Homo sapiens: one gene and its partners. The protein of the gene in region 1 purifies or fractionates together with the protein of each later gene. This does not show direct contact. Each region holds a gene or a part of one and is shown in the gene's direction. Other genes may lie near its edges. The genes, in order: EVPL, PKP2, SLC25A17, OLFM4 and RFC4.

Region 1 (6,509 bases):
GAGGACTGAGGGGACGGGGTGGGATCCCTGGGGTAGGGATGCAGGGGCTGTGCTGCCTCCTGCCTAAGCCACAGCCCTCCCCAGAGTTCTCACCCAGGGCCTTGTTGTATTGAAGAGTTAGGGGTTCATGGCCGGGCGCCGTGGCTCACGCCTATAATCCCCGAACTTCAGGAGGCCAATGCGGGAGGATTCCTTGAGCCCAGGAGCTCGAGACCAGCCTGGACAACATAGGGAGATCTTGTTTCTGTAAAAAAATAAAAATAAAAAATAGCCAGGCATGGTGGCTCGTGCCTATTGCTTGAGCCCAGGAGTTTGAGGCTGCAGTGAGCCATGATCACACCCCTGCGCTCCCGCCTGGGTGACAGACTGAGACTCTGTCTTAAAAAAAAAAAAAAAAAAAATCCTGGCGCAATACCTCACGCCTGCAATCCTACAACTTTGGGAGGCCGAGGCGGGTAGATCACTTGAGCCCGGGAGTTCGAGACCAGCCTGGGCAACATGATGAAATCCCGTCTCTACAAAAAATATACAAAAATTATCTGGATGTAGTGGCGCATGCCTGTAGTCAGAGCTACTTGGGAGGCTGAGGTGAGAGGATCACTTGAGCCCGGGAAGTCGAGGCTGCAGTGAGCCGTGATCACTCCACTGCCCTCTAGCCTGGGTGACAGAGCAAGACCCTGTCTGTTAAAACAAAATAGAGCTGGGGCTTCCTTTTCCAGTGGGTGTGGTGCAGGGGGCACTGGGCCTCCCTTGGACCACCCGGCTCTCTGGAGCCCAGCCTCAGCAATCTGTGGATGGATTGGGCGGTGTTCTTCCCACTCACTGGCTTCAGCTCGTCTGCAGAGGAGGCAGCAGCCCGCCTGGGTCCAGGGTGTCGAGATGACCTCAGGGATGAAAGGCTGGTGTGGGAGTGGGGGTGCCCATTACCCCGATAGGGATCAAGGCACCAACAGACACCGAGGCTGGGTGTCTGGGCGGACGGGAAAGACAGTGGTTAAGACTCTCAGCTAACACTCTCGCTGAGTGACCTGTCCTCCCTGGGGCACCTGAGCCCCACCCAGGGTGGAGTGTGCAGCTCCCGGTGGGAGCAGCCATCCCAGGAGGCGGGACCTGAGGAGGGGCGCCCAGGGCCCAGCACCTGCAGCTCCCACTGTCCAGGCAGGCTCCCCAGCAGTGCGCTCCTGGCCTGGGGCAGCTCCGTCCTCAGGGCCCTGTTGGCTCTCCCCTCACGTGCGATCCACTCGTTTGACATGAACTTACTGAGCACTTACTGTATGCCAGGACTGTTCTAGGCACTGGAGATGTCACTGTAGACAGAACCAACAAGCCCCTGCCTTCAAGGCACTAGCCCTCTAATGGGATAAAAACTAACACGTGCTGGGTGCCGACCCTGCACCAGGCCTGCACTGGACGTTTCAGATGGATAAATTCAATTAATGCTCACAATAGCCCTAAGGCATAGATATTTTTATTAAAATCCCGCTTTACAAGTGAGGAACCTCAGGCACAGAGAGGTTGAGTAACTTGACCAAGGTCAAGTCCATCATCTTTCTGATGGAGAAAGATGAAACCAGGGTGTCTTGGCCACAGAGTTCTTCCAGACTGCTGTGCCTTCACCAGCACTGTCCCTTTGCCTGGGGGGGCCCATCCTTTGACCCAGTTCAAGGCTTCTCCTGCCCCAGCATAATGATCCCCCATAAGGCACTGTGCTCATAAGGCTTGGACCAATCTGCCCTCTTTTAGGTCTGCTTGACCTTGTGACCTCCGCACAGTGAGTGCATGCACACAGCAGGTGCTCTATGGAGGCTGCAGGGCGAATGCACAGAAAAAGCCCTGGGGTGGAAGCAAGGTTTCCCCTCCACCCCTGACCATGTGACTCAGAGCAAGTCAGAGCCCAATCTGGGCTTTGAACCCTCAACTCTGGAGAATGTTAGGGTGCCCAGTAGTCTCTTGCGCCTGCCCCACCTCCCCGGCTCCGACAGTGTGAGGCTCCTCTAGATGGCTACTGAAGCCAGCATGCTGGCAAGGCTCCCTGGGGTGGAGGAGGTATAGGGGAACACAGGGCTGGAGTGCGAGGAGGTGGGGATGGGGGACATGCTGCTGCCTCCCTGCCCCAGCCAGCCCAACTACCCCTCCCAGGGCCCAGCCAGGCTGGCTCAGGTGCTAGTGGCTGAGCCGGTGATTCACTGGCTCGGGGAGGGAAGTGGCAGGTAGCTAGGTGGGGTCGGGAACTCACTGCCAGCACAGCTGGCTAAGGCTGGGACACCGAGGCCGCCTGCCCCCTCCCCAGCACCACACAAACCTGAGACCCTCACCTTTTGACCCCTCATGTGGCGGGGCAGTGCTAACACCCCCAACCAGGACTAGCTCACAGAGCCTTCTGCAGAGAGAGACCCCAAAGTCAGGGCAGTGAGCTAGGCTGTGGGGGCAGGATGGGGTGGAGGGAGGGCAGGGGATGCCACCTGGATGGGGCACAGAGGGGCCTCTTCCACCGAGCTACCCGCTGTCCCCTCCACACACTAGGGCTGCCACCCAGGAGCTGGCCCTTCTCATCTCCCGCATGCAAGCCAACGCCGACCAGGTGGAGCGGGACATCCTGGAGACGCAGAAGAGGCTGCAGCAGGTGAGGCCCCGGCAGCAGTTGGCAGGGCGTGGACAGGCTGGGTGGCATGGGAGGCCCATCATCAGGCCTGGCACTCCCTGAGTGCCCCTTGGTGATGGTGAAGATGGGACAGATGACCTTTGTCCTGCACCGCCCATCCCCTAACACACGGTGGGAGAGAGGGCTCAGCTTCCTTCTTTTCTGGGCTCCCCTGTGTCCTTGTCACCTGCCCCACGGACGCCCTGGTCCTGACCCTGTGCCTGGCGTGGGCCTCAAGGTTGGCTAGCATAGCTGGGGTCCCAAAGTTGGGGCTCAGGCCCACAGTGATGGGCAGCAGGGGTGTGGGGGCTCTGGGCCCTGGCCAGTCTGCCCATCTCCTGCCCACAGGACCGGCTGAACAGTGAGCAGAGCCAGGCCCTGCAGCACCAGCAGGAGACGGGCCGCAGCCTGAAGGAGGCTGAGGTGCTGCTCAAGGACCTCTTCCTGGACGTGGACAAGGCCCGGCGGCTCAAGCACCCGCAGGCTGAGGAGATTGAGAAGGAGTGAGTGGAGCTGCGGCAGGGCTGGGGGTCCCTGGGGAAGACCCAGGTCCAGCCCTGACCTGCCGGCCACCTTCTTGACAGCATCAAGCAGCTGCACGAGCGGGTGACCCAGGAGTGTGCGGAGTACCGTGCCCTGTACGAGAAGATGGTGCTGCCCCCCGACGTGGGACCCAGGGTCGACTGGGCACGCGTGCTGGAGCAGAAACAGGTCAGGAACTCAAAGTCACACCCCAGTGTGATCAGAGGGCGATACGGAACTGCATTTAATCCAGGGCCTGACTGCAGGCTTGAATAGTCAGGGTGTAGGGGTGGCTCAGGGGTCTGGGCAGAGAGACAGCAGAGTAGACAGTGCAGTCAGGGAAGACTTCCTGCAGGAGGAGGTACATGAAGAGACCTCAGAGGGGTGAGAGGGCTCAGTTGGGCCAGGGTGAAGTAGTGAGGAGAGGACAATTCCAGAAAGAAGGAGCAAAGGTTCCTGCCAGGAGGAAGCCTGGGCTTCGACGGGAAGTGGGGATTTCTGGGCAGGTGGGCAGAGCCAGGTCATGGGACATTCTGATCCCTGGTTGAGGAGTTGTGCTTTGATGCCACACAGAAGGGGTGTCATCATGACAATAGAGGGACAGTGGGGAAGGGCCCGGCTGGAGCAGGGCATTCTGAGGGCCCTAGAGCTTGGCTGGTGGTGTCCAGGCAGGAAGCACTGAGGCTGGGTCACAGACAAGGCAGGATGGAGCTGGAGACTTCTTAGAGGCTGAGCCCAGCGTCTGGGAACCAGTGGGACTCAGGGGCCACTGCAGAATGGCCTCGCCCCTGGGGGAGCTGCAGGGCATGCACCCGGGCTGCTCCCAGGCTCGTCCACGCTCTGCCCAAATGACCAAGTCCACTTCTCCGGGTGGGAGGCGTGTGGGGTTCTCTGGCTCCCCACCGCGGTCCTTTGGGGACTGAGCCGCCGGCTCTCCTGCAGAAGCAGGTCTGCGCAGGCCAGTACGGGCCGGGCATGGCGGAGCTGGAGCAACAGATCGCCGAGCACAACATCCTGCAGAAGGAGATCGACGCCTATGGGCAGCAGCTGCGGAGCCTCGTGGGGCCGGTAGGTGAGCCTGGAGGATGTCACATCCGGGGCCAGCCCCAGCCCGTTTCTCCAGTCAGAGCCGGAGCTAGATCGGCTGGGCCCTGGGGATAGGGGTGGGTGGGGTATGGCTGGCCCAGATCTTAGGGGGCCGTCTCCCTGCACCCCACCTCTCACGGGCTTGTTTCTCCCCTTGGTCGAGGCAGGATGCAGCCACCATCCGGAGCCAATACCGAGACCTACTGGTGAGCAGGAGGGAGGGTCGGGCAGGGAGGCTGCGGGTGGGCCTGGGTGGCCGCCCGGACCCTGCCCGGGGCCAGTGTTCCTGAGCGCGGCCCAATGGCGCCTTTTGCCCCCCACTTTCTGTCTCCCCACCCTGCTGCTGGCGGCGGGTCCTGAGCACAGAAGGCGGCGTCGTGGCGCGGGCAGAGCCTGGGCAGCCTGTACACGCACCTCCAGGGCTGCACGCGGCAGCTGAGCGCCCTGGCTGAGCAGCAGCGCCGCATCCTGCAGCAGGACTGGAGCGACCTCATGGCCGACCCTGCGGGCGTGCGGCGGGAGTACGAGGTCGGCTGGCAGAGGTCGGGGCCAGGTGGGGGCGGCCAGGGCCATCCGGGTCCTCACCGCCGCTCCCCACCCGACTCGCCCCCAGCACTTCAAGCAGCACGAGCTGCTGAGCCAGGAGCAGAGCGTGAACCAGCTGGAGGACGACGGCGAGCGCATGGTGGAGCTGCGGCACCCCGCGGTGGGGCCCATCCAGGTGCGCTGGGGCAGGGCGAGAGTGAGAAGGGACGTGGTGGGCGGGGAAGGGGGGAGGTGGGGCGGACGTGGGGGGGGCGTGGTCCGAGGGCTCCATGCTGCCGTACCCAGGCCCACCAGGAGGCCCTGAAGATGGAGTGGCAGAACTTCCTGAACCTGTGTATCTGCCAGGAGACCCAGCTGCAGCACGTGGAGGACTACCGCCGGGTGAGCCCTCGGGCAGGCGGCAGGGGCGGCAGGGGCGGCAGGGGCGGCAGGGGCGGGAGCACAGCACCCCTGCCCACAGGAGAGGCACTGCACCTCCCAACTAGACAGAGCTGGCAGGGCGCGGTGGCTCACACCTGTAATCCCAGCACTTTGGGAGGCCGAGGCTGGTGGATCACTTGAGGTCAGGAGTTCGAGATCAGCCTGGCCAACATGGTGAAACCCTGTCTCTACTAAAAATACCAAAATTAGCCAGATGTGGTGGCACGCGCCTGTAATCCGAGCTACTCAGGAGGCTGAGGCAGGAGAATCGCTTGAACCCAGGAGGCGGAGGTTGCAGTGGGCCGAGATTGGTCCACTGCACTCCAGCCTGGGTGACAGAGAGAGACTCCACCTCAAAAATAAAATAAAATAGAGCTGTGTGGTTGCCACTCGGTCCCAGAGGGAAAGAAAGGCATGGGCACATTCTCAACAGGGTGAAGCGGTTCCCAGGGGGGTGAAAATTGGTTCTTACTGGCAGAAAAATATCTTAACTCTTTTTATGCATGAAGTCCAGATCCACATACAGCACCTAAGCTGTATACAGCATATCTGTGGTATTAAAATTTCGTGGGGGCCAGGTGTGGTGGCTCACATCTGTAATTCCAGCACTTTGGGAAGCCGAGCCAGGAGAATTGCTTGACACCAGTAGTTCCAGACCAGCCTGGGCAACATAGCAAGACCCTGTCTCTATACAAATAGATACATCTCTATCAAAATAAATAAATAAATAAAATTTTATGGGGATGAGGTGGGGGGAAATTAAATAAAATATTTCTTAAAAGGCTCTTTAGGAGAATAATAATGAAAAAAAAAACGGTTGAGAAACCCTGATATAATATGCAACTGGGATTTGGGGGCAGATAATGTTTCATACATTTTCCTATAGAACCACAAGACTGTGATCACACACGTTGACAAAAATTCCGTCAAAGCACCTGGAATGCTTCTTTAAAGCACAGCTTCTTCTCCGGGGCTGGGACAAGTGCAGCTCCAATACCCTCTGTCCCAGCAAGAAAGACTTCAGGTGCTGGAGGGAGGCAGGTGACGGTGCCCTTCATTTGTGCAGGAAGGACGAAGACCAAGTGTTTTATGACCCACTTAAAAAAATTAAGTTCAGTGCACAAATAAGACCCCATTTGCAAGAGCACACCAGTGATAAAAGGTCCTGCCGCCTGGGTAGGAAAAAGAAAGACCGACCAGAGTAGGGGAGAGTGACAGTTTAGGTTTAGCTGGTTTAAGTTTAGCTGGTTTAGGTTTATCTGGTTTAAGTTTATCTGGTTTGTGTTTAGCTGGT
Region 2 (6,509 bases), on another chromosome or scaffold:
CATAGCGAGACTCCATCTCTAATAAAATTTATAGAAAAAAATTTTTTTTCTTTATTTAAGGTCCAAGTTCCAGCCGTTCTTTGCCATAGAGATTAAAAATTAAGTGGCTGCCTGACCTTTTGCCAGCCCTTGTGGAGAAATCAAGCCCCTGGAAACAGGAGATGCCTGGTTTATCTCAACTGCTCTTGTCTCTAGGGTGACAGTTACAAGCCTGCCACTGCCTCCTCACAAGACTCCTTGAGGCCTGAAAATTGTTTATCAGGCAGATTGTTTGGCTATAGGAAATAAGGACACGTGTACAAACATAATTTAGGATGGATTTAGACTTTTTAGCTCTCTGGCAAAAATAATTTCAAATTACCATTCTCCCTCCCCTTGAATGTATCATCAGTATTTTGAAATTTTGTCTTTATAACAGTTTATTGGAAAAGTTATGTTGATGTGTTCCCATTGTACTGGAAAGGAGCACCCTGTGTTGTTGTATTCTCAACATCTTTCATGAGTCTCTGAAGCCTAGAAGAGTTAATTGAGTATATTTTCCCTCTGATTTCTAAAAAATGCTACATGACAGAAAAAAATTTCAGTTAAATGTAAGAAAGTAGATATTACTTGGCTTTTGGAGATTGTTGATTATTTTGATTAGCCTTTTTTTAAGGCAGTAAGAGAAAACTCAAAAAAAGCTGAGAGAAGGATAAAGGAGGCAGAAGAGGGACACAACATACTGCTTTCCACCACTCCCCCCTCCTCAGACAGGAGTATGTGAAGATATATGAGACAGGCATCAGTTGAATCCCTGTAGGCTTCACAGAGCTGAGCACAAAGGGCTGGCTGCTGTCTGTGTTTTCATGAGAGTGGGCTGGCTATTAGACCACCAAACAAAAGAGGGGCCAGGTGATTCCACAAAAGCAGCCATTTGGATGGAGCATAGAGGTTGATTTCCTTTCCTGCCTAACTCTCCTGTTGCCAAATATCTCAACCCCAGCATTGGCCTGAAGTTGATCCATGTTTCCCTTGATCATGCTGATCTACCCTGTTGTTTTTCTTGCTTTTGTTTTTGTTTTTTTGAGACAGGAGTCTTGCTCTGTCGCCCTGGCTGGAGTGCAGTGGCGCTATCTCGGCTCACTGCAACCTCTGCCTCCCGGGTTCAAGCGATTCTCCTGCCTCAGCCTCCCGAGTAGCTGGGATTACAGGCGCCCACCACCACCCCCGACTAATTTTTGTATTTTTAGGAGAGACCGGTTTCACCATGTTGGCCAGGCTGGTCTCAAACTCCTGACCTCATGATCCGCCCACCTCGGCCTCCCAAAGTGCTGGGATTACAGGTGTGAGCCACCACGCCCGGCCTATCCTGTTGTTTATACAAGCTGTCTTATCTAGTAGTGCTGAGTCACCATTATATTTATTGCCTACACCTGCTTATTACAAGAAGCTTCCGAATTCCTGCCTTGGGAACAGAGTTCTGTGACTCGGGAAACTGAATTTTATAGTCTCGACCAGCTAAACCAGACAATGAGTCCCAAATTTTTCAGCACTATAACAACCAAACATTTTTAGATTTTTGTGAATTTCCTCTCCCTTCTTTTTCTTTTTTTAAATTCAACTTTCATTTTGAAAACTTTTTTTTTTTTTTTTTGAGACAGAGTTTCACTCTTGTTGCTCAGGCTGTAGTGCAATGGCGCAATCTCAGCTTCACTGCAACCTCCACCTCCTGGGTTCAAGCGATTCTCCTGCCACAGCCTCCCGAATAGTTGGGATTACAGGTGCCTGCCACCACGCACAGCTAATTTTTTGTAGTTTTAGTAGAGAGGGGCTTTCACCATGTTGGCCAGGCTGCTCTTGAATGCCTGACCTCGGGTGATCCACCCACCTCTGCCTCTCAAAGTTCTGGGATTACAGGTGTAAGCCACCGTGCCCAGCCAAAACTTTCTTTTTGAGACAGAGTTTCACTTTTGTTGCCCAGGCTGGAGTGCAATTGTGTGATCTTGGCTCACTGCAACCTCTGTCTCCCGAGTTCAAGTGATTCTCCTGCCTCAGCCTCCTGAGTAGCTGGGATTACAGATGCCCGCCACTATGCCCAGCTAATTTTTGTATGTTTAGTAGAGATGGGTTTCGCCATGTTGGCCAGGCTGGTCTTGAACTCCTGACCTCAGGTGATCCACCTGCCTCTGCCTCCCAGAGTGCTGGGATAAGAGGCGTGCGCCACCACACCCAGCTGAAAAACTTTTGTAGAGAATGTTTTGATAACCTTTGATCACTTGCCATATCCCAGGGTGGTGTGAAACTAGCATTTAAAAACATTAACGTACGTTTAATACTTGTTCTTGGCCTTCATTACTTAAATTTAAAAGTTTAATACATCATTGTTATACAGTCTGTAAATATTAATTAGCCTACTTGTATTCTGAGTTATTTTAATATTTGCTTGATTGCAGGAAATCTTCACCGAACCAGCAGTGTTCCTGAGTATGTCTACAACCTACACTTGGTTGAAAATGATTTTGTTGGAGGCCGTTCCCCTGTTCCTAAAACCTATGACATGCTAAAGGTAGGATATCAAAGAATGTAACCCTAGTGATCAGATTACTACCATGAAAATATTTTCAAACTTCCTAAGATTATTTTTGAGTGTTTACTTTTCCCAAGTATTATCATTTCCTAAATGAGTTTTGAGAAAATTGATATTTATGAGGATACCATGGAAAACTAGGGATGTGAAACATTCTTACATCCTAGTGCAAATAAATATGACTCAAGTCAACCAAGTCTTATTTTCAAAAAGCCTTTACCCAGAAAGGGGCAAACTTCTCGTCATCTGATTCAGAGAAACGGACATGTTGGGTAATAGTCCCAGAGTAATTAGTCCTCAGCAAAGTTGAAATTTGATTTATGCCCCCTTTAAACTTTATTTCTCTCATGTGCAGGCTGGCACAACTGCCACTTATGAAGGTCGCTGGGGAAGAGGAACAGCACAGTACAGCTCCCAGAAGTCCGTGGAAGAAAGGTCCTTGAGGCATCCTCTGAGGAGACTGGAGATTTCTCCTGACAGCAGCCCGGAGAGGGCTCACTACACGCACAGCGATTACCAGTACAGCCAGAGAAGCCAGGCTGGGCACACCCTGCACCACCAAGAAAGCAGGCGGGCCGCCCTCCTAGTGCCACCGAGATATGCTCGTTCCGAGATCGTGGGGGTCAGCCGTGCTGGCACCACAAGCAGGCAGCGCCACTTTGACACATACCACAGACAGTACCAGCATGGCTCTGTTAGCGACACCGTTTTTGACAGCATCCCTGCCAACCCGGCCCTGCTCACGTACCCCAGGCCAGGGACCAGCCGCAGCATGGGCAACCTCTTGGAGAAGGAGAACTACCTGACGGCAGGGCTCACTGTCGGGCAGGTCAGGCCGCTGGTGCCCCTGCAGCCCGTCACTCAGAACAGGGCTTCCAGGTCCTCCTGGCATCAGAGCTCCTTCCACAGCACCCGCACGCTGAGGGAAGCTGGGCCCAGTGTCGCCGTGGATTCCAGCGGGAGGAGAGCGCACTTGACTGTCGGCCAGGCGGCCGCAGGGGGAAGTGGGAATCTGCTCACTGAGAGAAGCACTTTCACTGACTCCCAGCTGGGGTAAGTCCCCTCCTGACTCTGCAGTTCAGTCATTGCCAGCACATTCTGTTCCCACAGCCCTGACAGCATGAGCTGGCACTTCTGGGGCTTGAGAGAAGGGCTTCCAGAGATAAGTGATTAAAATAATGACTTTTCAGGCAGCTGCCTAATTGACAGATCAGCCTATTTACCTCAGGGACAGGGGCCAAGCTACCTGCTCACATGGCAGCTTTGTATGGAAATGTGACATTTAGTCCATCTGTTCCAGATTAGATGCTGGCTGAAGGGACCCTACCCCTCAGCCATATGAAAATCTGCTCTAAACTCCAAAGTAGGCCAAGAATTGGAGAATTGCATGCGTATTTTCTTCATCATCCCATGAAATAAAAGGAAAAAATGCTTATTCTTAGCACGAATGCCATTTGGATAACTATGACTGTAAAAAGAGCTAAGGAAAGATGGCTGACTTCTAGATGTCTTTTTTCTTCCTTTGGTACTTGGTACCTTTTAGATTTCTAGTGTCAGTGATTTGAAGGGGTATTCTTTTGGCAGTATTAAATTATTAAAATAACTGAATTTTTAAGTCATTCCTTTCCATTCCTATTTACTTTATAGCTTGACTAATTTAGTGTTTGGAACTTAACCCTTATTCAAGTTTAATGCCTGATCACAAATTTTATAAACTGTGCACGTTACTAAGAGAAAGATTGAGAAATGGATGGCTGATTAGATCAGTAACTCCTGCAATAATGATCTAACATCATTAGGCTAAAACATTAGATATGTTATTGTCATTTGATTGCTAAAGTTGTCTAATGATAGTTGTTACCTCTAAACATCCCTTCAAGTGAAATTGTACAGCATGCTCACTGACCAGGTAGCATCATTAATAAACTACTTCTCAAAATGATGAGGGCTAATCTAATCTTAACACAGGAAATATTTTTTATGATGTAAAATTCACCATGAGATTTCTAACATTTCTTATAGTAAGCAGACCTTAGGCAATATGAGCATACTTACAAAGAGGAAAAATAAGCCGGGAGCAGTGGCCCAGGCCTGTAATCCCAGCACTTTGGGATGCCCAGGCGAGCGAATCACTTGAGTTTAGGAGTTCAAGACCAGCCTGGGCAACATGATGAAACCCCATATCTACGAGCAATACAAATATTAGCTGGGTGTGGTTGTGTGCACGTGTGGTCCTAACTACTCGAGAGGCTGAGGCGGGAGGATTACTTGAGCCCAGGAGATGGAGGTTGCAGTGAGCCAAGATTTGTGCCACTGCACTCCAGCCTGGGGAACACAGTGAGACCTTGTCTCAAAAAAAAAAAGAGAAAGTGTATCAGGTCATTGTTTATGGAGGAAAAAGCTGATAAAGGCTTTTAAACAGGTAATTCAAAATTTATGGAATGCCTACCATAGCCTAGGATTTGTGATAGCCACAGTTTTAGCAAAATGATTTTAACAGTAACAAAATTATTATCTGACATCCTCCAACAACTGGCATTCTCTCCCTCCATCTCTGTGTCCCTTGCTTCTTGAACCACCCTGTCACTTCCCAGTCTCTCGTCAACCCACTGCAATATGATTTCAGTCCCCTCCATTCCACCTAAACAGTCTCCTGACAAATGTAGCAATGATGGCCTTATCTGCTACATCCTAAGCAGACACTATATTGAGTAATATAAGCACTGCTTATATTACTCAACCTGTGGGTGGTGTTTGAGACACCATGAAATTCTCTCATCCCTTGGTTTTCAGGGCACCAGCTTCCCCTGGTTTTCCACTCACCTCTCCAGCCATTCTTTGTTAGTGTTCTCTGCGTGCTCCCTTTCTGCCTGCTCAAAGAAGGCATCTTCAGTAACCCTTCTATTCCAAGTCTTGATGCTCTTCCAGAGAGGCTCTGTGTACCTCACTTTTATCCTTATGGTTCTCAAAGTTTTGTCTGCAATTCCATCCTTGATGCCAAATTCTGGACCTATATGAAAATGTAACAACCTCCTGGAAATTTCACACTCAGTATATCCTAAACTAAACTCATCATCTCCCTATCCTCAACTTCCACCCATCTCCTCCTGCTGTAGTCTACTATTTTCAAACCTGGAAGTCATTCTTATCTTCTCCCTCTGTAGTCACCTATCACCAAGCCATATTTTTCCTTCTATGATGGGTCTTGAATTTTTACCCTTCTTTCCATTTCCATTACACAGGGCTCTCTGCCTCTGGTCTTGCTCAGTCAGAACCGTTCTCTAGGACTGTCAGAATTATCTTTCCACATGTGATTGTTTATAACCCTTCCATAATTCCACTAAGTGTTCATGCTTTTAGGCATGACCTACAAGCCCCATTGTGTTTTCAGCTCTGCTTATCACTTCAGCCTCTTCTCCTTCTACTCTTCTCTGCCATTCATCACCACCATCCCCAAACATACCCACATACCAATACCCAAACCACCTGGAACCTCTTTACTTTCCTTAATGCAAGATATTTATCCATATTCATTCTCTCTCTCTTTCCTTCTTTTCCCCCACTCCACACCTTTACATATGCAGCTCTACTTTTGTCTGACTACTTATAATTCTGGATTTAGCTCAGATACCACCTATTTTCTGACCACTTCCTTCCCAGTCTAGCTTAGGTGCCCCAGATAGCAGCCTTGTGTGAGTGTCTCTATCAGAAAAATATATTGTGGCTATTCATTTGCTTATCTGTTCTCCCTCTGGACTTTGAGATTTTTGTGAATGCTCAATCATCTTTATATTCTCAGCACCCTAAAATGGAAGTAGGCCTATAGTAGGCACTGTATAAATATATGATGAGGCCAGCACAGTGGCTCACATCTGTAATCCTAGCACTTTGGGAGGCCCAGGCTGGAGGATCGCTTGAGCCCAGGAGTTTGAGACCAGCTTGG
Region 3 (5,617 bases), on another chromosome or scaffold:
CCGAGGTGGGTGGATCATTTGAGGTCAGGAATTCGAGACCAGCCTGGCCAACATGGTGAAACCACATCTCTGCTAAAAATACAAAAATTAGCCGGGCGTGGTGGTACATGTCTATAATCCCAACTACTCGGGAGGCTGAGGCAGGAGAATCACTTGAACCTGGGAGGTGGAGGTTGCAGTGAGCCAAAATTGTGCCATTGCACTCCAGCCTGGGTGACAGAGTGAGAAGATGTCTCAAAAAAAAAAAAAAAGGAAAAATTTTTCTTATTTTCACTTATTTGATTGAAATATTTCACTCAGTTGAAAAATACAGGATTAATGAAATCTATGGTACTAATTGGATAAATTTATTAATGTATGCTATAAGATACTACTCCAACATAATATCCTCCCCAGGTAAAAATGAAGATTTTAAAAAACAGCAACAGTACTTTTGTTTTTTTTCCCTCTTTCCTCAGTTTGGGCGTCATAGACTAAACCCAGAAAACAGAACATTGGGAAGTCTTCGGAATATTCTCTATCTTCTTCACCAACGAGTAAGGTGAGCTTTGTAGATGCCTCACATTCCGTGCTCTCCTTCAGCAGCCATCTCTGCCAGGGAGGGGTTGCATTTCCCTCTCTCACACTACTGCCTTGGTGGTGGCAACCTCCAAAACCTTTCCCTTGCTTGCTGTGCTTAGACATTTCCCATTTTAGGAGCCTAGTACAGTATGACAGCATTTTGGGAAATTATGGAAAAGTTCAGGTTCTTATTCTTTGTTAGTTACAAATATTCAGAACTCCTTCAGAAAGAGAACCCTTCTATACTTCAGTCACCCTGAGTGTGCTTTCATCAGTGGCATATCCTATGATGCCTCTTAGCAATATAACATCTGCCTATAGAATAGGAGTACTGGAGAAGGGAGGGGGCAGTGGAAAAAGTGATAATAGTGATGATGATGATGATAATGATGATGGTGGTGTTGGTAAGAGTAGCTAACATTTTCAGTGGTTTGCCATGTGGCAGACACTGACCTAGAGGCTACACATAGGTAATCTCAATCCTTTTTTTTTTTTTTTTTTTTTTTGGAGACAGAGTCTCGCTCTGTTGCCCGGGCTGGAGTGCAGTGGCGCTATCTCCGCTCACGGCAAGCTCCGCCTCCTGGGTTCACACCATTCTCCTGCCTCAGCCTCCCAAGTAGCTGGGACTACAGGCGCCTGCCACCACGCCTGGCTCATTTTTTGTATTTTTTAGTAGAGATGGGGTTTCACTGTGTTTGCCAGGATGGTCTTGATCTCCTGACCTCGTGATCTGCCCTTCTCAGCCTCCCAAAGTGCTGGGATTACAGGTGTGAGCCACCGCGCCCAGCCTTGTCAATCCTAACAGTAGCTCTGTGAGTTAAGAACTATTGTCATTTCCTGTTTCATTTAAAGAAACTGACACTTAGTGAAGTCAGATAAGTCAGGGACCTCCTTTGAAGCAAAAGCTCTTATAACTTTATTACTGTTCCTAGATACAAGATACTTTGAAAATAAATTTATTATTAAAATAAAATATGCAGCCAGGCAAAGTGGCTCATGCCTGTAATCCCAACACTTTGGAAGGCTGAGACAGGAGGATAGCTTGAGGCCAGGAGTTCAAGACCAGCCTGGGCAAAGTAGTGAGACCCTGTCTCTACAAAAAATATTTACAAAATTAGCCAAGCATGTGGCACAAACCTGTAATCACAGCTACACACGAGGCTGAAGCAGGAGATTCACTTGAGCCCGGCAGATTGAGGCTGTACTGAGCTATGATGGCACCACTGTACTCCAGCCTGGGCTAAAGAGGCAAGACCTTGTATAAAAAAAATAAAAAAAAAAAAAGAACATTCAAGGGACTAAAAGACAAAATTAGGCTGGGCGTGGTGGCTCACACCTATAATCCCAGCACTTTAGGAGGCCAAGGCAGGCAGATCGCTTTAGCTCAGGAGTTTGATACTGGCCTGGGCAACATAGTGAGACCCCGTCTCTACACAAATAAAAAATTAGCTAGGCATCCTGGTGCCTGCCTGTAGTCCCAGCTACCCAGGAGGCTGAGGTGGAAGGATTGCTTGAACCCAGGAGGTCGAGGCTGCAGTGAGCTGTGATTGTGCCACTGCACTCTAGCCTGAGCAACAGAGTGAGACCTTCTATCAAAAAATAAAATAAAATAAAAGACAAAGAATATGTATAAAGTAAAAAATAAATACTCACTATATCAAGTATTGGGAGGGATGTTGGAGCAACCAGAACTTACTTTCTTATGCTGCTGGTGGGAATATAGAATGGTACAGCTGCTTTGGAAGGCAATTTGGCATTTTCTTTAAAAATTTTTATATACCACACCTATTATAGGACCCAGCCATCCACTTCAGGGTATTTACCCAAGAGAAATGAAGGCATATGTCTACACAAAAGCTTGTATACAAATGTTAATAATGGCTTTGTTTTTTTTTTTTTAATTTTTTAATTTTTGATTTTTGTGGGTACATAGTAGGTATATATTTTTGAGGTATGTGAGATGTTTTGATACAGGCATGCAAAGCATAATAATCACATCATGGAAAATGGGGTATCTATCCTCTCAAACATTTATTCTTTTTGTTACAAACAGTCCTATTATACTCTTTTAGTTATTTTTAAATGTACAATTAAATTATTATTGACTATAGTCACCTGTTGTGCTAGCAAATACTAGGTCTTATTCAAACTATCTATTTTTGTACCTATTAACCATCCCCACCTTCCCCCCGCCACTACTCTTCCCAGTAGTCTCTGGTAACCATCCTTCTACCTTTATCTCCATGAGTTCAATTGTTTTGATTTTTAGGTCCCTCAAATAAGTGAGAACATGCGATATTTGTCTTTCTGTGCCTGGTTTGTTTCACTTAGCAGAATGACCTCCAGTTCCATCCATGTTGTTACAAACAACAAACTCTCATTCTTTTTGATGGCTGAATAGTACTGCATTTTGTATAAGTACCACATTTTCTTTATCCATTTATCTGTTGATGGACATGTAGCTTGCTTCCAAATTTAAGACATTATTTGTAAGAACCAAAAACTAGGGCCTGGCACGGTGGCTCACACCTGTAATCCCAGCACTTTGGGAGGCTGAGGCGGGCAGATCACGAGGTCAGGGGATCGAGACCATCCTGGCTAACATGGTGAAACCCCATCTCCACTAAAAATACAAAAAAAAATTAGCCTGGTGTCGTGGCGGGTGCCTCTAGTCCCAGCTGCTAGGGAGGCTGAGGCAGGAGAATGGCATGAACTCGGGAGGCGGAGCTTGCAGTGAGCCGAGATCGCGCCACTGCACTCCAGCCTGGGCGACAGAGCGAGACTCCGTCTCAAAAAAAGGAAAGTACTTTGACAACAGAAGTCTGTGTTGAAATCTAAAACCTCTATTGCTTGTTCTTATCAAAGTAGCTATCTAGGTAGCATGTTCTCTGATGCAGGAGCTGACTTCTGTTTTTTCAAACCTCTTTCCCTTTAGACGTTTTGGAATAATGGGACTCTACAAAGGCCTTGAAGCCAAACTGCTGCAGACAGTCCTCACTGCTGCTCTCATGTTCCTTGTTTATGAGAAACTGACAGCTGCCACCTTCACAGTTATGGGGCTGAAGCGTGCACACCAACACTGAGACGCCTTCCCATGAAAAATTCCGAAGATGCTCAAGAGGGAGGTTTCCTCCTGAGTGAAGAGAAGTGATTCTCCCTTGACTCTGGCTCCTGCCACCACAAATGTTACCCTCATTGGCTTGAAAAGCATCCAAGGGTGCACAGGGAGTATGGCCAACTGGACCTGTTGTCACCTTAATTGTCATGCTGGCTGGTTGGATTTTGGGGTGGCAGTTGGACTAATGTGAAAAAAACATTGCTGAAAACCTAAAAATGAAAGTTTGTGAGTGTTTATTGGTTTTCTTAAGAGAAATGGACTATTTTGCTCTCATGTGTAATGTTTTCTATTTAAATCTTTCTTAAATATACCAGCTGTTCTCTTTCCCTGAACTCTCCCCCAGGTTCTAGGACAAATTTAATAACATGTAATTCTCCTCAAATACTTTTGTATGTCTCAGTGTTGGTGTTTTCCTCCCTAAAACTAACATTAGGGCTGTGCCACGGGCATGACTTTATTTTTGTTGGGCTTTTTTTTCCCTGCTTAAGGAGAGGTGTCTTTTTTGGATATGAGCTATTTATTTTGTGAAATGAAAATTGTTCACCCAAATGATTCTCTTATAAACTATTTGTAAATGTCACTTATTCATTAGTGTTTGACATAATTTTTAGAATATTTATTTTGAATCAATCCTTTCATTACGAAAGACTTGAAGTTTTGTGTCCATTCTTACAAGCCCTGGTCAGTCAAGTCCCAATAAATGGTCAGCACAAAAAAGATATTCTTGAAAATTGCTCTTTATTAAGGTATTACGTTGAGTTTGCAACCAGATGGGAAAAATCACAAAAATGAGAAGGGGAGCAGATATCTTGTTGAGGTCTGGATATTATCTCCCTTTATAAACTTGGTGTAGGCCGTATATTTTGAAAATAAACATCTGGTTGAGGTTATTTCATTTGGAAACCTTCCTTAGAGTCCTGTTGCTCAGTGTGGTCCATCAGACGGTAGTACTGCCACAAGCTGAGAGCTTGCTGGGCACGCAACCCAGAGTTTCTGAATCCTGTTCCGTATTTTAACATTCCCAGGTGATTCACAGCCACATTAAAGTTCAGGAGACCATAGGACCCCTGACCCATGAGAAGAAGTGATTGGTTTCGATTATAGACATCAAGATAAAGATTTTTCTCAAAGGAAAGAGATTAATGTATTAAAACAACCTCTGAAAAATCTAGGAGTCGTATGTCATCTTTTGCTTTCACCTCACAGCACGTTGTTAAGGTGGTAAGGCTTTTATTATGCGGCCAGGAGTGGATTTAGATATCTCGACCCACTCAGGAAGCAAATTCACTTGACATTAGCAGAGCGGTTCTTTGGATTTCTATGACTTCCTTTTTGTCCCTATGACAAAATGGCGGGTTTTTCATTTGTAAGTCCATGATTTAGTCAGAGAGAGTAATAATGAAATACTTCATTATTAAGGATTTAGTTCAATTTTGAGAGTGGAAATTTCCTTCTCTTATTTCCTCTCTTTAGTCCCTGTGGTAATTTCAAAGTATATGATTGTTAAAGATCATTGCATTGTTCTAGCAAACAAAAATTAGCAGGAGCTAATAATCTGGGAAGAAGACTGAACATTCATCCCCTATTTAAGTCAGAGAATTGAAGACAGAATTGTTTTTTCTATTTTTTAATTTTACTTTAAGGTTTTTGTGTGCCTGTGGCAGACCTTGAGTGGGAAGTACAAAATTATTTTGATTTCTGTATAGGAGAAAAATGATCATAAAGGTGTCATGTGTATTTTCATTATTGTTTTAATTATGCCGTTCCCTTTGGAACTTGAATTTTGAGCTCAGAATATTGTGAGTTGGTCTGTTAGGATAATTTCCAGTTCGAATTATATAGCTGTATTAGGTATTTATGATGTGAGAATGTATTTGATGCTTCTCTTTTTCTGATTTTATGAGGAAACAATTTAACATTGAGGGTTATGTTCCTTAT
Region 4 (6,509 bases), on another chromosome or scaffold:
AGATGCTGGTGAGATGGCAGAGGAAAGGGAACATTTATACACTGTTGGTGGGAGTGTAAATTAGTTCAGCCATTGTGGAAAGCAGTGTGGTGACTCGAAGAACTAAAAAGAACTATTATTCAACCTAGCAATCCCTTTACTGGGTATATGCCCAAAGGAATATAAATTGTTCTACCATAAAGATACATGGGCGTGTGTGTACATTGCAGTACTATTCACAATAGCAAAGACATGAAATCAACCTAAATGCTCATCAATGGTACACTGGATAAAGAAAATATGGGCCATATACACCATGGAATACTTTGCAACCATAAGAAAGAATGAGATCATGTTCTTTGTAGGAACATGGATAGAGAGCTGGAAGCCATTCTCCGAAGCAAATTAACACAAGAACAGAAAACCAAATACCACATGTTCTCACATATAAATGAGAGCTAAATGATGAGAACACATGGACACAAAGAGGAGAACAACAGAAGCGTACTTGAGGGTGGAGGGTGAAAGGAGGGAGAGGAACAACAACAAAAAAATCTATTGGGTGCTAGGTTTAGTACCTGCGAGACAAAATAACCTTTACAACAAACCCCCATGACATGAGTTTACCTATATAACAAACCTGGGTATATACCCCTGAGCCTAAAACCTTTTTAAAAAATGGAGATTAAAATATACCTGCAAATGATGATGCTGAAGCAAAATTATGTTTAGCCTAGCAAAGTATAAAATCTACCTCCCTTCAATTGGAGTAATAAGTTCTTTGTATATGGATAGATTTTAAAAATCTAGTTAAATGTATTTTTGATCTATTTATTTACAAAACACAATGATTGGCAAGAATCAAATAGTTCTCAACTCAAGGGCTCGGTAGTGGAAGAAGATGGTGTGATACTACTCAGGGAATTGGCTTGAACCTTTTGATTTTCTTTCAGGTGAGGGAATATGTCCAATTAATTAGTGTGTATGAAAAGAAACTGTTAAACCTAACTGTCCGAATTGACATCATGGAGAAGGATACCATTTCTTACACTGAACTGGACTTCGAGCTGATCAAGGTAGAAGTGAAGGAGATGGAAAAACTGGTCATACAGCTGAAGGAGAGTTTTGGTGGAAGCTCAGAAATTGTTGACCAGCTGGAGGTGGAGGTAAGGAGTGAACTCACTTCTTGGTAAATTAATAATAAACTCCCTTCAGTGACTGTAAGCAAGTACTAGTACCAGGAAGTGAAACTATCTCTTCCAACTTCTAATTCTCTACTGTCTCATGGCCACATGGCATATCACTATGTTCTGTTTTGGATAAGGGCATGTGTTTGAATAGTAAGTTAAGCACATTGGGAATGTGCTGACTTAGGAGCAGATGTTGTCTAATGGTCAGAATCCTGCCCCAGAATAAAATGCCCTTTCAACTTCTCTGAAAAGGAGCTGGCATAAAGTTGAACAACGGTTCATGGCCAAGCTATATGAGGTGTCTTCTCTGCTCTAGATTTATCCTCATGGAACTAGAAATCCACAATATACCTGATTGTGGTAAAATTGCTAGGTTTGTTTCTCCTTTTGAATAACCTGGAATCCTTCTCTGCAAACTGGAAACCCCCTTTAAGAAATTTCTTGTATATTTCTGTAAAGCCTTTTAAGATCTGTGGATAAAGACCATCACATTAACGTTATGGTTGGGTAATTTATATCAACAAAAATTTACTAGCACAGTCATGACATGGGCTATAATTGAGAATTCTAGTTACGTATTTTAGAATTTAAGCTTTCTCTGGCCCTCACCATTCATTAGAATCTTAATTATAATACAACATGAGTAAACACAAGTTTATAGGGGAAGGTTATTAGAAATGAACTTTAATGGACATTTGTGGATGCTGAGGATGAGCTTGGGCTCTATTATTAAAGCTATTAAAATCTTTGCCATTTTCTTCTTGTCACACACATCTGCCTGAGATCTGACAGGCATTCATGCTAAACCATAAAATGTATTCTTCCAAATGAAACCATTCAGAAGAATCTCTGGTGTATTCTCTGGCAATGTTTCACTAAATGACAAATTCAGCCCTGGAATGTTTATGAAAGAAATTGCACCATAATATAAAGTCACTCTGAATTTTTATTTCCTTAGATAAGAAATATGACTCTCTTGGTAGAGAAGCTTGAGACACTAGACAAAAACAATGTCCTTGCCATTCGCCGAGAAATCGTGGCTCTGAAGACCAAGCTGAAAGAGTGTGAGGCCTCTAAAGATCAAAACACCCCTGTCGTCCACCCTCCTCCCACTCCAGGTAAGCATGCCAGTTTTTTTAACCACTTGTGCCAGACCCCATAAGGAGCTGTGAGTGGGGTGGGGAAGGGATTGGGGATTGCAATGGTGAAAGAAGAAGGTGGGTTGTTTTTTTTTTTTTTTTTTCAGTTCTCAGTTTTCTCTTCCATGTTTTAAAATTCCCTTCCTCCCAAGTATTCTACATGCTATCATATTCTGGGTTTCAAAGAGGAAGAGCACAAACAATGAGTTGATTTAAAGCAAAATCCACGAGTTACACGTATTCTCTTTGCATTTTCTAACAGGGAACAAAAATCTCTATGGTGATGGAGGCCCTATCAGGGGCCTCAGGGGAAAGCCTCTGGAATCTGTGTGTGGCATCCACTTTCCTGTGGAGTTAAGGACTGATTGGCTCACTTATCTGATGAGCTGGGTTTATGCCTTTGATGCTGCCATCTTCTCTCTCTCCTTCTGTTTCTCTTTAATTTTTTCTTTTTTCTTCCTATAAATGCATGCTGAGCACCTGCTATATTGTGTGTCCTGAGATTCAGTGAGGATTAAAGGAATGACCCCACATATCATGTGCTTGTGGGTGTGTCTTGCCATTCCTCATGGATTGTGAGTTCTTGGAGTAGGGGTGGCATGTTCGTCTTTAATGAATTCTCATTGGGGTTAAGTACAGCACAGAGGTGGGTGTTCTGCAAATATACCCATGAACAGAGGCAGTGGAGTGTAGGGTACAAGAACATAGCTTTAGAATTCCAAAGACCTGAGCTTCTCAGCTAGGTGGCTGCAGCAAAAAGGATCCTTAATATCCTCATTTGTAAAATGGGAGAATAATAGTGCCTGCCTTGCAGGGTGGCTGTGGGGATTAATGAGTCAGTGCTTGGGAAGCTCGGAACCTTATGATCGGCACTCACACGCTGGCAATGGATATTGTTAATAATGTTGATAATTGAAGCGAAAGCCTTGCAGCAAAACAAAAGCAGTGCCAGATTACTGTGCCCTGCAATGCATTCCTTCAGGTAAACTAAAGCCTCTCAGCCACAGTGTTCAGCCCCATCCTTTAGAGATATCAATGACACAGGGACCTTCTCTCTGCAGGTCCTGAGCATCTTAGCCTGAGTGGGGACTGTATCTTTTCATCAAATCATGCAATCCTTTTATTTTTATGAATTCCAATCCTCACACCTGCTTTCTTTTAGACTGTGTTTCTGGATTATTGTCATTGTAACTGATTTTTTAAGGCTTCAATTATTAAATAGGTATAGCCATAGATATAAGCCTCTTGGTCTTCTTCAGGTGGATTTTTTTCCTCCCTCTGCAAATAGGAGTGTGTCCTACTATGACAGGTGTCATCTAATGGTTAGAATCCTGCCCCAGAATGAAATGGCCTTTCAACTTCTCCAGAAAGGAGGTGACATAAATTTGAACAACTGTTCAAATTTCGCATCCTGCATAGGAGGTTTAGGGCAGACAACATGGTCTGTCCTCTGTAATAAACTAAGGCTAAATTTAGTCTGGGATTAGTGGTGCAAAAATGTAGCAAATGAGAGCTGTTTCTGGTGGACCACAGAGGACTCACTGAGGCAGAGGCTGAAGCAATGACAACTCCTGATAATCCCTGAACGAGCTCCCCAACACCCCTTGCAAATCCTCCTCATGGAATAGATTTTTCTGGCACAATTTTCTATGCATCCCTTAGAATGAGGACATTTTAGATGAAGGAATATTCAGGGCCATCTAACTTAGCCTCGTCTTGTCTCAGAGGAGAAGACGTGGATGGTAAGAACGCTGCTTTTCCTGAGGCCACACAAGTAGTTAATGACAGAGCAGAAGCTGCAAGGCAAGGGTCTTTGCTCCCTGGTCAGTTCAGGACCGAAGGTGTCAGGCAGCAGTAATCCAAGGACAACGGTGGGGAGAAAATGCATTGCTTAGTATCCAGGGAAGAAAACAAGTGAGCCTGTTGGGTTGTTTTTGTTGGATTTTTTTTTTCCCAGAACTTTCCCCTAGGCCCTCACACTTAGACTTCTGTGATCCATCCTAGCCCAGCTGTGTTGTTTAAGCAAATTGGACCCAGATTTTTACTCACTTTCCCACAACCTTGGCTGTACCTGAATCCCTGCCAAGCCACTTGGCTCTCTTCCAGCTTTGTTCATATTATATTTATGATGTTTATATTAAACTGACTTTTGGTCATGTTTTTAAATCAATTTCTTTCACTTGCTCTCTTTCTGTTTGGATTGGTTGATAATGCAGAATTGGAAAATCCCCAAGCACCACAAACTTGTGAGCCTGTGGAGACTTTAATTAAAGTTATTCTCTATTATGGGACTTTAAAATCTGGCCTGTCTGCTTTTTTCACTGCAGAGTTGCACAGAATAAAAAAGACTATATGCAAGTCTCAGCTCTAAAGTAACTCTGCGCTCTCTGGGCCCCCTCCCTTATAGCTACAGTTTGCTGACCCAGTGGTCAGCTTGAACTTAGAACAAGTGAATGTATCCCAGGTTCAATAAAATATGCTTCCTATTTGGTTTTTGCTACAAACAACGTCCTTTTTCTGCCTCATTTCATAGAACTTTCTAATCTAAAATAATTGGCCTTCTACTCATTAACTTTTTTCCCTTAAAACTTCAGTCTGTCTCTGTTTTGCCTGTGAATCTAAATGACTGTATATAGGCCAAATGTGATCGGGTGCTCAGGGGTTGATCTCCAGTTTGCTTGGGGATGCAAGGTTCTGTGCTGGTCCATAGTGATGCTCAGTAAGTAGCTGATGATTAAATGGGGTCTGAAAGAAATGGGGTGACCTGCTAAAATCTCAAGCTTAGGGAAGAGCCACATGTTGAACAGCATATATCCAACACTTCAGAGTCAATTTAGTCTTAATCATTTTATGACTATGATTGTTTTAATTGCCTAATTCTTATAAGTCAATCATATTCTCCTCCTGGCTCAAACAAAGTTCAGTTGCCCAGTTGAGAGAGTGCATTAATAGATCCAAGACTAATTTTCCTCTGTAGGCATATAATTATTGGCTTCAAAAAAATGCTACTAACCATGATACTTTTAAAAAGCCAAGTCAGAATATTTTAAATTCTCATGATTATGGCTTCCTCAGGTATTTTCAGAGTACCATGGTGCCATCTAATGAATTGCATGATGAAGAGAGTGCCAACCAAGGCTAAACTTCTATAGAGGGTTCCTCAAATTATGTTCCATGGAGTAAATGCCAGGCTTTTTGAAAAACCAGATATGTAGCAGGGTAGAAGGCTAGTGTTTTATAAATAAGGGTAAGCTGAGTTTAGGTGACTTGATTAATCTTTCATTCCTTTATTCCACAAACATAATTTGGTGCCACTGTGTGGCTGGCCCTGTTCTGGGTACTGGGGTTACCAGCATGAGTAAAGAAACCTCCAGAAGCCACTATCTAGGAAATGAGACATCTAAACCTCCAGTTGTAACATGATGTGATTATATTGAGATATTTACCATTTACTGAGTAACATTTACATGTCTTCTCTGTATTTTTCGTAACTATTTTGCAGAGTTGGTATTATTTTTCTTCTGACATGAGGAAACTGAGGCTCAGAAGGTTAAGTAACTTGCTCAAGGATACACAACTACTGTTGGAATCAGGCTTTGAATTAGAATCTGTCTAGTAGTATTTTCCATACTAGGCTGCCTTCCATAGCTGCTCTAACAGAGAGGTGCACCTGTGATTTCTGGAGTGAAAAGAAAATTCCAACAACTCACCTATCTGCTTAACACCAAATTATTTTTGCTTCCTTGGTAGTGGAGTAGGTAAAAGGGTACTGTTGCTCCTGACAGTTCTGTGCTGTGTGTTCTCTTCCACCAGAAAATGCAAAATGATTCAATGGTCTTTCAGAATTCTTGGATCATGATTGGGCAATGGGCTGTTGCCCAAGTGTCAGGGTGAAATTGGGATGGAAACTGGGTATGAAGTATGGAATGAAGTATGTCTAAGACCTTGACATGAAGGAAGGGGCTGGCAAGGAGCATGAGATAAGGGAGGGTGGTGAGAAGCTCAGTGAAGATGGGATGGGGGGATGGGGACTCTGAGGAACAGTGGGCACTGGACTGGCTGTCAGTTTCAGTATCGTGTCCAAGATGGTTTGCTGCCAGGAGTCGAGGAAGCCCGCCATAGCATTTTTCCTGGTCTGACATTGTTGTGGCCACATTTGTAGCATTGGCAGCAATGTTGAGTTCTCATCCCCATTTCCACT
Region 5 (6,509 bases), on another chromosome or scaffold:
TTCAAGCGCTTCTCCTTCCTCAGCCTCCCGAGTAGCTGGCATTACAGGCATGCACCACCATGCCCGGCTAATTTTATATTTTTAGTAGAGACAGTGTTTCTCCGTGTTGGTCAGGCTGGTCTTGAACTCCTGACCTCAGGTGATCCACCTGCTTCAGCCTCCCTAAGTGTTGGGATTAGTGTGAGCCATCGCACCCAGCCCCACTTTAATTTCTTTTTTTTTTTTTTTTTTTTTGAGACAGAGTCTCCCTCTGTCACCCAGGCTGGAGTGCAGTGGTGCGATCTCAGCTCACTGCAAGCTCTGCCTCCCAGGTTCGTGCCGTTCTCCTGCCTCAGCCTCCCAAGTAGCTGGGACTACAGGCGCTCACCACCACGCCTGGCTAATTTTTTGTGTTTTTAGTAGAGACGGGGTTTCACTGTGTTAGCCAGGATGGTCTTAATCCCCCACTTTAATTTCTAATTAGTGTTTGTAGCATATAAAATAAAATCCTTTTTCTTTAATTTTTGTGGGTATAACAGATTCGAGCAATGCAGAAAGGAAGTAAAACATTATTTCACTCTTTCAGAATGTGTTTGGTTACGGTAAAAACAAGTGGGGTTTCCACCTATTTCCGATTATGAAAAAGTTTCTCATTTCATTGCTGATGTTTAAGAATGGTCATTGGTATTTTAGTAGAAGGAACACTTGAGAGTTTTCTGTGGCTACTATAATATACTAAATAACCTCTTTCCTCCTTCTCACCCCGCAAGTCGCCCAAAATGTGTGGATGAAGTTGCTTTCCAGGAAGAAGTGGTTGCAGTGCTGAAAAAATCTTTAGAAGGAGCAGATGTGAGTTGCAAATGGTGTTTAATGTCATTGGGATATTTAAGACTTAATTTATTCACCCTCTTTCTTCCTTTATAACTTCTAGCCCTCGTTAAATATCTTGCTCTGTGTACAGTAGGTCCTTGATAACTATTTGTACAATGATAATTAGTTCAAATATTTATTGAGCATCTCCTATTTAATCTTACATAGCAGTGTTACCTAGTATTCAAGTAAAAGTCATAGTAATTAAGACAAACTATGAAACATAGACATAGAACAAGACATAAAACATAGAACAAGACAAACTATGCCCCTTTTTTCATGGGTTTTTATTGGTAAGGAAAGATAGAATAAACAAGTAAACCAATAAATAATTATAGGTAGTAATATGTGCTATAAAGAAGAGCCAGAGATTCCTCTAAAGTATAATTGCTTACTAACTTTAGGATTTGGATTGACCTATAATACAAAAAAAAAATCGAGCTTTGAATTCTGCTTATAGCTCTCTCTTCTGCTGTGATCTGGGGGATAAAGTATCCATGGATAACTTGCATTGTAAATTATTCTGAGATAAGATAAACCCATGTGAAAAATTAGCAACTTAAAGTTGTGTTATGATGAATGCCCAAAGTGCTTTAACAGCTCAGTAAAGTGCTGAAGTGGGATGTGGTTTTTGCTTTAGTTTCAAGATTTGCTTCCTTCCTCTCAATCTGGCTGCTTTTAATTAGAAGTTCTTTTGGGTTTTGCTGCCATCATTCCCTTGCTGAAATTATATTACTACAGTACACATTTTGAAAGAAGTTAAATTTATAAAACTATTTAGAATCTTTTTCTTTACCAGTATGTGTTTTGATTTGACTCGCATACTCTTATACCTTTTTGGCCGGCCACAGTGGCTCACGCCTGTAATCCTAGCGTTTCGGGAGGCTGAGATGGGAAGATCACTTGAGGTCAGGAGTTCAAGACCAGCCTGGCCAACATGGTGAAACCCCATCTCTACCAAAAATTAGAAAAAGTAGCCAGGCGTGGTGGCACACACCTGTAGTCCCAGCTACTCAGGAGGCTAAAGCGGGAGAATCATTTGAACCTGGGAGGCGGAGGGGTTGCAGTGAGCCAAGATTGTGCCACTGTACTCCAGCCTGGGTGACAGAGTGAGACTCTGGTCTCAAAAATAAATAAATAAATAAGTAATAAAAAATAAATAACACAAATACTCTTATACCTTTTAATTTTATAATAGTATAGCATTTTATTTTTTGGTATATTCTGCTTGCATATCTTGGTAACAGTATATACCATTTTAATTGCAGTTGCATAGTAATTACACAGATTGCAGGACAATATCTAATTTAATTACTAGTATCTTCAGCAAATGTAGTGAGATTAAGATCCAGTTCTTTTGTTTTTTTGTTTTTTTTTGTAATTGAGACAGAGTCTTGCTCTGTCACGCAGGCTGGAGTGCAGTGGCGTGATACCAGCTCACTGCAACCTCCGCCTCCCAGGCTCAAGTGATCCTCCCACCTCAGCCTCCCAAGTAGCTGGGACTACAGGCATGCACCACCACACACAGCTCATTTTTGTATTTTTAGTAGAGATGGTGTTTAGCCATGTCAAGTGACCTGCCCGCTTTGGCCACCTAAAATGCTGGGATTACAGGCATGAGCCATCATGCCCAGCCTAAGATCTAGTTCTTGACTTTATGCCACGTAATTTATGAGGCTGAAGTAAGAACTTCAGTTTAATATTTTGTGCACCTTTTCAGACTAAGTTTTGTAAAGAGGTGAAATAGTTTTTTTAATTCAAAAGAGTAAAGGAAAACAATTCATTCAATTTATTTTGAAAGGTTTTAAAGAATTATAAGAAGATAATTTTTTCAGAAATTGATTTTAAGAACTGGTATTCCACATACAGTTCTTGAATGTACTACATATATTAGACTAGTGTATAATTAAGGTTTAATAATTTTACCCTGTTTCAAAGAATTTAAATTATTGTATCTGATAGTTAACCTGGATGAATCGTTACATTGTTAAGGGATGCACAGATCAAAATAATAGTTGTAGACCTTAATTACTAAGAAGCCTGGGAGGTTTTTAAGTTATGAATCTCATAGTTTGTTCTGTAAGCTATATGTTATGAATGTAACAGTAATAGTCTTCTAATTAACATATTTGTCTATGTATTGGTTTATTCATTCATTTGGCCAACATTGACTACTGTAGTAGATGCTAGAATACAGATGTGAATAGAACAAATAAGGTTCTTGGTCTTTTAATGAAGTAGACAGGCATTTTACAATTAAGCCCCACAGTGAAATAACAATAAACCAATGCAAAATGCAACAAACACTAATGAGAGAATAGGAGAGGAGACCTACTTTAGACTGAATGGTTTCTGATTTGTAATGCATTAGGAGTTGGCCAGGCAGAAAGAAGAGGATCAGACTCCAGGTCATGGGAGCAACATATGTTCGGGCCAGAAAGTGCCAAGCTGTTAGAAGCCATTGTAAGCTAGAGCCTGGAAGGTGAAGGAGGTGGTAGGCAGATCATGGAAGTCCTTTAGGCCATGGTAAAAAGCTGAGGGTTTTTTGGTTTGTTTTTGTTTTTCTAAGTGGAATAGTTTTAAGTAGCAAGCAGAGTGGTATCTGATTTAGGTGAAGAATGAATGGACAGGAAGAGGGAGGGTTAGGCAAGAGTGGAAACAAACTCTAATGCCTAGTTTCCTGTGTACACTGATTTCCTTATGTGACAGGACATACTGAAGATTGCACAGTATCATAACAGAGCTCATTAGAATTTAGTTGACTTATTAATTTTCACCACGGATCAGTCGACTGCTTGATAGGAGCCAAACTAGCTAGATACAAGGTATAAAAGAAGGTAGCTAGTGATTTAATTTTATCCTTTCCTCTTCTAATGAATTCTCCCTGATACATGCAAGCATCCTTACAGAGTGCATAATCATGATGTGGAGCAGTGCCTAGTACTTAATATATATCTAGTTTTGGATTTTTTGTTAATATTTCTGTTCTTGGTACTTCTGCTCATCCAAAGCCCTAATTATGTCTTTTTTAGTCCTTTTTCCTCAGTTTTGGCCAAATCCCATTACTCTTTTGGTCTGCTTCCCCTTTGAAGCAGCTGACATTTTGTGTAATATAAAATCTTACCTAATCTTGAGCATAGAGGTGGGATAGGAAACTGAGATTCCCTTTAGAAATAAAAGGTTTCTCATTCCAGCTTTGAAAATTTCACCTAAGTGGATTAGCTATAGAGCAAGCATAAATATTGGTTCAGCTTAAGAGATTAAAAAGACACTTGGGGAAAAAAGTGGTAGTATATGAAAAAGCAGGATTTAAATCTGTCAGTACTATGATATCAGTTATATTAAGAAAACTTTATACTTAGAAATTACGTGCCCTATTAGAGAAGTCATTGCACTATTCCACAGACATTTTTTTCGATCTTCCTTTTCATCTATTTGTGCCAGAATACCATTTATTAAAAATAAAATTTAATTTCTACAGCTTCCTAATCTCTTGTTTTACGGACCACCTGGAACTGGAAAAACATCCACTATTTTGGCAGCAGCTAGAGAACTCTTTGGGTACGTTGAAATCAGTCTGTTTTTCTTTTTTTAAAGATTTGACACCAAAATTCTCTGATATTGCTTTTTTTCCTCTAAAAATTTGCGTTTCGTTTTCTGTAGGATAGTTTTCTATTTCTGATTTTTAAAAATCCCATGAGCCATTTTGTTCCTCCCTCACTCCCCTGAAGAAATCAGCTTGCCTGCGTCTTTTGTGACCTTCATTGTGAATCTTGTTCAAGTGTGGGGAGCCTATGATTTTTTCCATCACTTTCTTTAAATTTTCCATTATAACTTTGGAGTCCAGAGGGCCCAACTTAATGTCCAGTTGTGCTGATAGTTTTATCACCCTCTTAATGATTGTGTTCACATCTGTGTGGCTACATGATAGAATCTGCTGTTTCTGATGGCACTATTTGCACCATCCATTCTTGAGTCCTGCTCTGGACTTCCTAGGCTCTGACTCTGGAGTGGCCAGTCCAGCTCCTTGCCTCAGGTCTCCTGAGCACAAGTGATGGTTGATGTAGTGTGATTCCAGGTACACCAGAAAATCTTCCTGTGAGTCACCTTCTTATGTTCCTCTTCCTAGATTGACCATCTTGGCTTAACCAGCCATTCTAGAGGAGCCCTTTACCTAGAGTTAAAAGATGTGTAGTGGGCTGGGTCTGATATACATGAAACATGCACCAACATAACAAAGGCTGTTTTGAGTTTATCCAGAATTAATATCAGACATACAACTGATAGAAATATCTGAAATCCTACATATGAAAATAGGCTGGGTGTGGTGGCTCACATCTGTAATCCCAGCACTTTGGGAGGCCGAGGCAGGTGGATCACCTGGGGTGAGGAGTTCGAAACCAGCCTGGCCAACATGGTGAAACCCCATCTCTACTAAAAATACAAAAATTTGCCAGGCATGGTGGCATGCACCTGTAGTCCCAGCTACTCGGCAGGCTGAGGCAGGAGAATCACTTGAACCTGGGAGGCAGAGGTTGCAGTGAGCCGAGATCACGCCACTGCACTCCAGCCTGGGTGACAGAGCGAGACTCCGTCTCAAAAAAAAAAAGACGCCACTGAAATCACCAAATGTGTAAGGATTATTAGTTATGTCAAAATGTAAAAGACAAAGGGAGAAGCTGCTATGTGCCTAATATTTTATTTGACAGCAATTTTTTATTCTCAGTAAAATTATAGAAGAACTTTTTTGATTATTCCACAACTCAATCAGATAGAACCAATCTGAATCAGCCTTAACAGTTGTTTATTATTACTTAGAGTAGGTCAGTCCAGATTATACAACTTTTTCTATATCCTTTATGAAATAATGTTTGTCTTTAAAGAACTTACTTTAACAGTGAATTTCATATTTAATATTGTGGCTTTAAAATAGAAAATAGATGCATGTAAATGTTTATGTCCATAAACATGCTTAGGATACCATGCTGATTAGGAAAAATAGAGATGAAACTAAATCACAACTCTTGTTTTTTATTTAAATGTGTGTGTGTGTGTGTGTGTGTGTGTGTAAAAGACTAGAGGGAAGTTTCAAAAACAGTGCTTTGACAGTGTGCCCACTTTTTTCTTTTGATTTCTCAAATTTCTCTACAGTAAGCATATATTACTTTTAGTAATTTTTATTAAAACTCACTTTAAAAACCTGCTCATGTTTTAATCCATTAATTTTCCTTAATCCAGTAGGTTTCCTTATAGCAAACTACCCTGTGGAATTTATTTATTTATTTGTTTATTTATTTATTTTTGAGACAGTGTCTCGCTCTATTGCCCAGGCTGGAGTGCAGTGGTGCGATCTCGGCTCACTGCAACCTCCACATCCCGGGTTCAAGCAATCCTCCTGCCTCAGCCTCCTGAGTAGCTGGCACTACAGGTGCCTGTAACCACGCCCAGCTAATTTTTGTATTTTTAGTAGAGACAGGGTTTCACCACGTTGGTCAGGCTGGTCTCGAACTCCTGACCTCGTGATCCACCCGCCTCGGCCTCCCAAAGTGCTGGGATTACAGGCATGAGCCACCACATCCGGCCGGAAATAATTTAAAATGTGCTATATTATAACATTATTTAAAATTACAGTATTTAAAACTATCTAGATGTCTAACAAT

Evidence for each region.
Region 2: the proteins of EVPL (region 1) and PKP2 purify together in Homo sapiens (co-immunoprecipitation; one large-scale study listed by IntAct). This does not show direct contact.
Region 3: the proteins of EVPL (region 1) and SLC25A17 fractionate together in Homo sapiens (co-fractionation; one large-scale study listed by BioGRID). This does not show direct contact.
Region 4: the proteins of EVPL (region 1) and OLFM4 purify together in Homo sapiens (co-immunoprecipitation; one large-scale study listed by IntAct). This does not show direct contact.
Region 5: the proteins of EVPL (region 1) and RFC4 purify together in Homo sapiens (co-immunoprecipitation; one large-scale study listed by IntAct). This does not show direct contact.

Annotation. Positions count from the first base shown.
Region 1 is NC_000017.11:76,020,135-76,026,643, reverse strand, and holds part of EVPL (envoplakin), read left to right. Parts: intron 1-2,523; coding exon 2,524-2,623; intron 2,624-2,989; coding exon 2,990-3,144; intron 3,145-3,225; coding exon 3,226-3,352; intron 3,353-4,105; coding exon 4,106-4,231; intron 4,232-4,416; coding exon 4,417-4,455; intron 4,456-4,615; coding exon 4,616-4,777; intron 4,778-4,862; coding exon 4,863-4,970; intron 4,971-5,080; coding exon 5,081-5,176; intron 5,177-6,509. UniProt on the Homo sapiens protein: Component of the cornified envelope of keratinocytes. May link the cornified envelope to desmosomes and intermediate filaments.
Region 2 is NC_000012.12:32,874,956-32,881,464, reverse strand, and holds part of PKP2 (plakophilin-2), read left to right. Parts: intron 1-2,432; coding exon 2,433-2,545; intron 2,546-2,921; coding exon 2,922-3,619; intron 3,620-6,509. UniProt on the Homo sapiens protein: A component of desmosome cell-cell junctions which are required for positive regulation of cellular adhesion.
Region 3 is NC_000022.11:40,768,861-40,774,477, reverse strand, and holds the end of SLC25A17 (peroxisomal membrane protein PMP34), read left to right. Parts: intron 1-458; coding exon 459-541; intron 542-3,496; coding exon 3,497-3,644; 3' UTR 3,645-4,848; downstream 4,849-5,617.
Region 4 is NC_000013.11:53,040,978-53,047,486, forward strand, and holds part of OLFM4 (olfactomedin-4 precursor), read left to right. Parts: intron 1-932; coding exon 933-1,145; intron 1,146-2,127; coding exon 2,128-2,287; intron 2,288-6,509. UniProt on the Homo sapiens protein: May promote proliferation of pancreatic cancer cells by favoring the transition from the S to G2/M phase. In myeloid leukemic cell lines, inhibits cell growth and induces cell differentiation and apoptosis.
Region 5 is NC_000003.12:186,795,436-186,801,944, reverse strand, and holds part of RFC4 (replication factor C subunit 4), read left to right. Parts: intron 1-749; coding exon 750-828; intron 829-4,330; coding exon 4,331-4,410; intron 4,411-6,509. UniProt on the Homo sapiens protein: Subunit of the replication factor C (RFC) complex which acts during elongation of primed DNA templates by DNA polymerases delta and epsilon, and is necessary for ATP-dependent loading of proliferating cell nuclear antigen (PCNA) onto primed DNA.